2 linked regions of the Homo sapiens genome follow. The protein of the gene in region 1 interacts with the protein of each later gene in a pairwise test. Each region holds a gene or a part of one and is shown on either strand. Other genes may lie near its edges.

The links. The genes of interacting proteins can lie anywhere in the genome.
Region 2: the proteins of BAALC (region 1) and CINP interact in a two-hybrid assay, tested with the Homo sapiens proteins (one study listed by BioGRID).

Annotation. Positions count from the first base shown.
Region 1 is NC_000008.11:103,147,179-103,150,831, reverse strand, and holds part of BAALC (brain and acute leukemia cytoplasmic protein), read right to left. Parts: intron 1-3,653. UniProt on the Homo sapiens protein: May play a synaptic role at the postsynaptic lipid rafts possibly through interaction with CAMK2A.
Region 2 is NC_000014.9:102,352,800-102,356,452, forward strand, and holds part of CINP (cyclin-dependent kinase 2-interacting protein), read right to left. Parts: intron 3,099-3,653; coding exon 2,969-3,098; intron 1-2,968. UniProt on the Homo sapiens protein: Component of the DNA replication complex, which interacts with two kinases, CDK2 and CDC7, thereby providing a functional and physical link between CDK2 and CDC7 during firing of the origins of replication.

The DNA of each region.
Region 1 (3,653 bases):
GGTGTGGCTGTATCAGAATTCAGGATAATGGCTTAGAGAAGAAGGTCAAGAATCCCTGGGTTGGATATCCAGGCCAAAGGGCATCAGCTTTGCCTAACTGCCCACTAAAATGCCTGTGAAGACATAGAAAAAGACCAAGACTCACAACATCACCACAAGTGAAGACTGGTAGGCAACCTAATCCCAGAATCTAGGAGAAGCTGGCATCATTTGTAAAGCAGATTGTGTTAGATTAAGAAAAACCTACCCAGACTTTTGGTTTTGCTTCATTACACAGAAGCCACATGGTGAGATGTAGGCAGACATTAGGTACCTATCCCATCTGACACAAAGACCTAGAGCTGGAAGCCTATGGAGTGGTACCAGCCATAGCTCTGGGCAGCCAACCTGTCTGACCTCAAGGGCATTTGAGACTCAGAAAGCTGGTCCCTGCACACACACACACACAGACACACCCAGCCATACACACAGACACACAGACACACACACACACACACAGCCATGTTTCTATATCCATGATATGGTTTGGCTGTGTCCCCACCCAAATCTTATCTTGAATTGTATCTCCCACAATTCCCACGTGTTGTGGGAGGGGCCAGGTGGGAGGTAATTGAATCATGGGGGTGAGTCTTTCCCATGCTGTTCTCATAATAGTGAATAAGTCTCATGAGATCCGATGGTTTTATAAAGGGGAGTTTCCCTGCACAAGCTCTCTTCTCTTGTCTGCTGCCATGTGAGATGTGCCTTTCACCTTCCATCATAATTGTGAGGCCTCCCCAGCCACATGGAACTGTGAGTCCATTAAACCTCTTCTTCCTTATAAATTACCCAGTCTCAGGTGTGTCTTCGTCGGCAGCATGAAAACAGACTAATACAACCCATAAAGAGACTAAATCCCAGAAAACAGCTAGGAAAAATATAGAACAGCATACTCAGCCTGAGCCTGTTGTGGGGGCTTGAGGGGGAGGTAAGAGGGAAACATGGAGGAATCACCTACAGTAATTACCTGGTATGTAATTTGCCTGAATTCAAGTATATTTGCCCAGTATTGAAAGAAAAAAAGAAAAATCCCTTTACTTCTCCATGACCTTTCCCCCTTTCTCTTCCTCCATTCAAACTAGACTTGGGCTCCCACTACCTCCATATAGTTTCCTAAATACAAAAATGAACAAATATAATTTTTCTTGGTTTTTGAGCTTCCAAGCAGTTTGAGGAATTTTTCCCATCCCCCCATCCGGAACTTTAAACATCACCTTCACGTATAAGATGCAAATACAGCATCGTCTTCATGGGACCTGAAAGATGAAACCTAAATGCTGAGAGAGGCATTATTTTCCTCTGTGTGCTTTTTCTATGCTTTTTAAATGTTTAATTAGGAGCATGCACTGCATTTGAAACCAGAAAAAAATATATGATTCTGCCTAAAGACTGTTCCTGTTTAATGGGCCTGTCAGGTGACTGGGATGCAGGTGACACCTGGGGCACCTCCTGCAACCCTTTCTATGGAGATGGAGATTGGAGCAGCACGGGCACTCAGCACAGGGAGAGGGCAGTGTAAGCACCGCAGAGCTGCAGGACTCAGCCTTGTAAATGCTAGCAGGAGGCTCCCACGCTAAATGGTTAATATTTTCAGAAAAGCCCAAGGCAGATGGGGTGGGGGGAGGGTACTACATTCGTGCTTAGCAGCACAGCACAATGGACCCTGCCCTGAATTCAGAAACAAGAGACCTGAATTCTGATCCTAGCTCTCCCACTTCCAAGCTGGTGGCCTGGCTCAGTCTCTTCATCTCACTGAATCCCAGCTCCTCATCTGGCAAGTGATGAGAACAATGGTTTATGAGGTTATTTCGGAGGGTGATATAAACTAGTGTCAAAAAGAAAAATTCTCACATATAGTAAATGCAAATAGTAGATACAAATAAATGCTATTTGAATCTAAACAGCCAGGAAATAGATCCAATCTCAGAAAAAAGTGTGAGGAAGTAACAGTGGAAATCCGTCTCTCTTATTATTTCCAAATGTTCACAGTGTTAGTGCTCATAAACACACTTGCATTAGTTTGCTAGGGCTGCCATAACAAAGTGCCACAAACCGCATGGCTTAAACAACGGAAACCTGCTGTTTCCCAGTTCTGGAGGCCAGAAGTCCAGGACCAAGATATCAGCAGGCCGGTTACAAAAAACAAACAAACAAAAAAAGGCAGAAAGAATGAATGAGACCTACTATTTGACAGCACAATAAGGTGACTATAGTCAATAATAACTTAATCATACATTTTGAAATAACAAAGTATAACTAGATTGTTTGCAACTCAAAAGATAAATGCTTGAGGTGATGGATACCCCATTCTCCATGATGTGCTTATTTCACATTGCATGCCTGTATCAAAACATCTCATGTGCTCCATGCATACATACACCTACTATGTACCCACAGAAATCAAAAATGAAAAAAGATATCAGCAGGGTTGGTTCCTTCTGGAGGCCCTGAGGGAGAATCTGTCCCCTGCCTCTCTCTGAGCTTCCAGTGGTTTTCAGTGGACTTTCCTTGATGCTCCTTGGCTGGTGGCAGCATCACCGGTCTCTGCCTTCATCTCCACATGGAGTTCTCCCTGTGTGTCTCTCTATCTCCAAATTTCCCCTTTTCATAAGGACACCAGTCATTCTGGATTAGGGCCCACCCTAATGAACTCATTTCAACTTGATTACCTCTTTAAAGATTCTCTTTCCAAATAAGGTCACATTCTGAGGTACCGGGGTAGAGAGGGGGTTAGGGCTTCAACATGTGAATTGGGGGAGACACAAATCAGCACATAACAACATTCTAAAAGAACAACATTCTCAAGAGAGATGGCTGTGGTTGGGCATGAGACAGAGTGGGAGTCAGGCATGTGAGGAAGCAAGCGTTCCTGGTAGCCAAGCTAGCAGGAGCTATATCATGATTGGGCTCAGGGTAAACCCCTCGAGTCTGCTCTGCAGAGGAGAGTAAATGTGGCATATAGACTGGCCAGAGAGGCTCTGAAGGAGTCTTTATAGGGATAGGATTTTGCAGCGGAGGCCAAAGGTCTGCTGAGAGTGTCTCGAGGCTGTAGGCCTGACATGGGAGGGCTCCTGGGATGAATGGCACAGCACCATTGTCCGAGAACAGGTTTAGACACCCAACTTCACAAGGGCAGAATGGCCTTATCAGCAGGAAGATGCTATGGATCACAGGTGCACAGATCCCAGGGTGAAGGTTGGACCTCCAGGAGTCCAAACCTGAGGGATTGCTGAGTGCAGAATGAGCCAGGAAAAGACCCCTTTCTGACTCAGAGAAGACTAGGTTCTTCCCACCAGGGCCTATTAACCGAAGAAAAAAAAATCTGCAATGTTTTTTGCAGAAAAAAAAATCTGCATTTATCCTTTGAGTTACATACAATCCAATTACACTCTTTAAATTATTTAAAAATATACAGTTGAGTTATTATTGACTATCGTCATCCCATTGTGCTATCAAATAGTAGGTCTTATTCATTCTTTCTACATATTCTGGAGGAAATTCTGGAATGCACTTAGGATACTACTACACCCTGCAGTGGAGTCACCTTAAATTCATCTTTGGCTAGGGTTGGAATTGTTTTATCTAATGTCCAATGAAGACAAGGTTCAATGGAC
Region 2 (3,653 bases), on another chromosome or scaffold:
ACCACCCCCAGCTAATTTTTTGTATTTTTAGTAGAGATGGGGTTTCACTATGTTGGCCATGCTGGTCTCAAACTCTTGACCTCAGGTGATCCACCTGCCTCGGCCTCCTAGAGTGCTGGGATTACAGGCATGAGCCACTGCGCCTGGCCAAAACAAAAATTAAAAAAAAACAAATAAAAATACAACAATTAGCTGGGTGTGGTGGCAGGCACCTGTAATCCCAGCTACTTGGGAAGCTGAGACAGGAGAATCACTTGAACCCAGGAGGCAGAGGTTGCAGTGGGCAGAGATCACCCCACTGCACTCCAGCCTGGGCAACAAGAGTGAAACTCCATCTCAAAAAAAAAAAAAATTAACAAATGGGAGGGAGGGAACAAATCTCCCACGCAGAATAATTCCAAATAATTTATGTAGATACTGCACCCTCAAGCAGGTGGTGAATACGTCCCTACCCCCAGGTGTGGGCTATGCATAGTGACTTCCTGCCAAAGAGCACAGCGTGGGAGGAGGAGAAAGAGCAACGTCACAGCAGAGGAACCTGGAAACACTGCCCAGCCAGGTGATCAAGGTCAACTTCAGCAGTGGAAAGTCCTGGCTGTGCACAGTGGCTCACGCCTGGAATCCCAGCACTTTGGGAGGCTGAGGTGGGAGCACTGCTTGAGCCCAGGAGTTTGAGACCAGCCCGGGCAATAGGTGGGACCCAAAGAAAAGTCCTGATGACAGTATATCCAGTACGTGCCCTTGATATGACATGATAGAAATGGCACTTTACTTCTGTGGTCCTCCTCTGAACAAAACCCGTAACCTCAGTCTAATTAGGAGAAAAACATCAGATAAATCTCATGATGTTCTACAAAATACCTGACCAGTATCCCTCAACATTGTCAAAGTCATCAAAAACAGGGAAGTCTGAGAAACTGTCACGGCCAAAAGGAGCCTGAGGAAACAAGGGGACTCGATGTCATACAGGATCCTGAAGCCAAAACAAGACATGACGGAAAAGCTAAGGCAGGGCGCCAGGGCTCACACCTGTGATCCCAGCACTTTGGGAGGCCAAGGTGGGAAGATCACTTCATGTCAGGAGTTCGAGACCAGCCTGGCCAACATGAGAACCCCGTCTGTACAAACGAATTTTAAAAATTAGCCGGGCATGATGGTTCATGCTTGTAGTCCCAGCTACTCGGGAGGCTGAGGCAAGAAGATCACTTAAGCCCAGGAAGTAAAGGCTGCAGTGAGCTGTGATCATACTACTGCATTCCACAGCGAGACCTTGTCTCCAAACAAACAAAAAGGTGAAAATATAAAGATCTTAAATGTTTATGGGTAAGCTTCAGTTATCCAAGTTCAAATATGTGTAAAACCTGATTTCCTGTGCCTAGCAAAGAAATAAGGTGGTGTTATCTTCACATCTGGTGGCCAGTATGGTAGGTATTGAAATTTAGTTATTAGTTCATTAAACAAACACTTTAGTCTCTTACGTGCTGTATCAGGGATGGGCAAACTATCCCTGGAACACAGGTCAATTCTGGCCCATAGCCTATTTCTGTATGGCCCATAAGCTAAGATGGTTTTTACATTTTTAAATGGTTGAAAATAACCAAAAGGACAATAGTGATTGTGACTCATAAAAATTATACAAAATTCTAATTTCGGTGTCCAAAGATAAAGATTTCCTGGACGAACATGGTGGCTCACGCCTGTAATCCCAACACTTTGGGAGGCTGAGGTGGGTGGATCACTTGAGGCCAGGACTTCGAGACCAGCCTGGCCAACATGGTGAAACCCCATCTCTACTAAAAATACAACAATTAGCTGGGCATGGTGGCGCACACCTGCGATCCCAGCTATGTGGAAGGTTGAGGCACAAGAATTGCTTGAACCCAGGAGGCGGAGGTTGCAGTGAGCCAAGATCTCGCCACTGCACTCCATCCAGCCTCAGTGGCAGAGTGAGGCCCTGTCTCAAAAAAAACAAAAACAAAAACAAAAAAGGCCAGGTGCGGTGACTCACGCCTGTAATCCCAGCAGTTTGGGAGGCCAAGGCAGGCTGATCACTTGAGGTCAGGAGTTCGAGACCAGCCTGGTCAACATGGTGAAATGCTGTCTCTACTAAAAATACAAAAATTAGCTCATGTGGTGGCACGAGCCTGTAATCCCAGCTACCTGGGAGGCTAAGGCAGCAGAATCACTTGTACCTGGGAGGCGGAGTTTGCAGTGAGCCAAGATCATGCTACTGTACTCCACCCTGGGTATCAGAATGAGACTCCATCTCAAAAAAAAAAAAAAAGAAAATCCAAAAAACAAAGATAAAGTTTTCATGGAATGCAGCCACATCCATTTACGCATATATTATCTATGGCTGTTTAGTCCTATGTGGCAGAGATGAGTAGCTGAGATAGAGACTGGCTGGCCCTGGAAGCCTAAAATATTTACTCTGTGGCTGGGCGTGGTAGCTCATGCCTGTAATCCCAGCCCTTTGGGAGGCCAGCAGGTGGATCACCTGAGGTCAGGAGTTTGAGATCAGCCTGACCAATATGGTGAAACCCTGTCTCAACTAAAAATGCAAAAATTAGCCAGGCATGGTGGCGGACGCCTGTAGTCCCAGCTACTCTGGAGGCTGAGACAGGAGAATCGCTTGAGCCCAGGAGGCGGAGTTTGCGGTGAGCCAAGATCACGCCATTGCACTCCAGCCTGGGCGACAAAGCAAGACTCCATATCATGGAAAAAAAAAAAAAATTTACTATGTGATGAGCCCTGAAAGTGGGTGACATTTCCCCGGATGACGCACAGGAGGAGTGAGTGTCTAAGACAGCATCTTGGGGAACATTAAGGTTTACGCAGCAGGCAGAGGAAGAGAACATCAGAGGAGACTGAGAAGGAGTAAGTGATGGCCAATGGTCAAGCAAACCCCAAATACGTCCATCGGATTCAGTGACAGTGACCACAAGTGGCCTGCGTCTTTATGTCTTACCAACCCATCCAAGGTGGCCTGCAGTTCCTCACACAGCTTCTCCAGTTCCTCGTTATATTCCAGACACACCTTTTCTTCATTTTCCTTCGAGGCTGGGCTGCTGCTGTCTAGTTCTATCTTGTCTTTATTCCTAAACAAAATAGAAAATAATGTGTACAAAATATACTCTTTAAGCTTGCCTTATTTCCTTATAATAAATTCTACAAACCTCTATATCCACATAGTTACGTGGGACATTTTGCATAAGCATTGTTCTTTCATATCATTATGATACAAATGCAGTTATTATTTATATGTGCAATGAATATGTCCATTGGTCACTCAATTTTGCACCAAAATAAGTCAGTTAAATTCAGCCATGTGACAGCCGGTTTTGGTGGCTCATGCCTGTAATCCCAACACTTTGAGGGATGGACGCGGGAGGACTGCTTGAGTCCAGGAGTCTGAGTCCAGCCTGGGCAACACAGTGAGACCTCATCTCCACAAAAATTAAAAGTAAAAATTAGCTGGGCATGGTGGGACACGTATGTGGTCCCAGCTACTTAGGAGGCTCAGGTGGGAGGATCACTTAAGCCCAGGAAGTCAAGGCTGCAGTGAGCCATTATAGCACCACTGCACTCAGCCTGCACAAAAGAGCAAGACTGTCTCAAAAAAAAAAAAAACACCATTCAGCGGTGTGGCATCC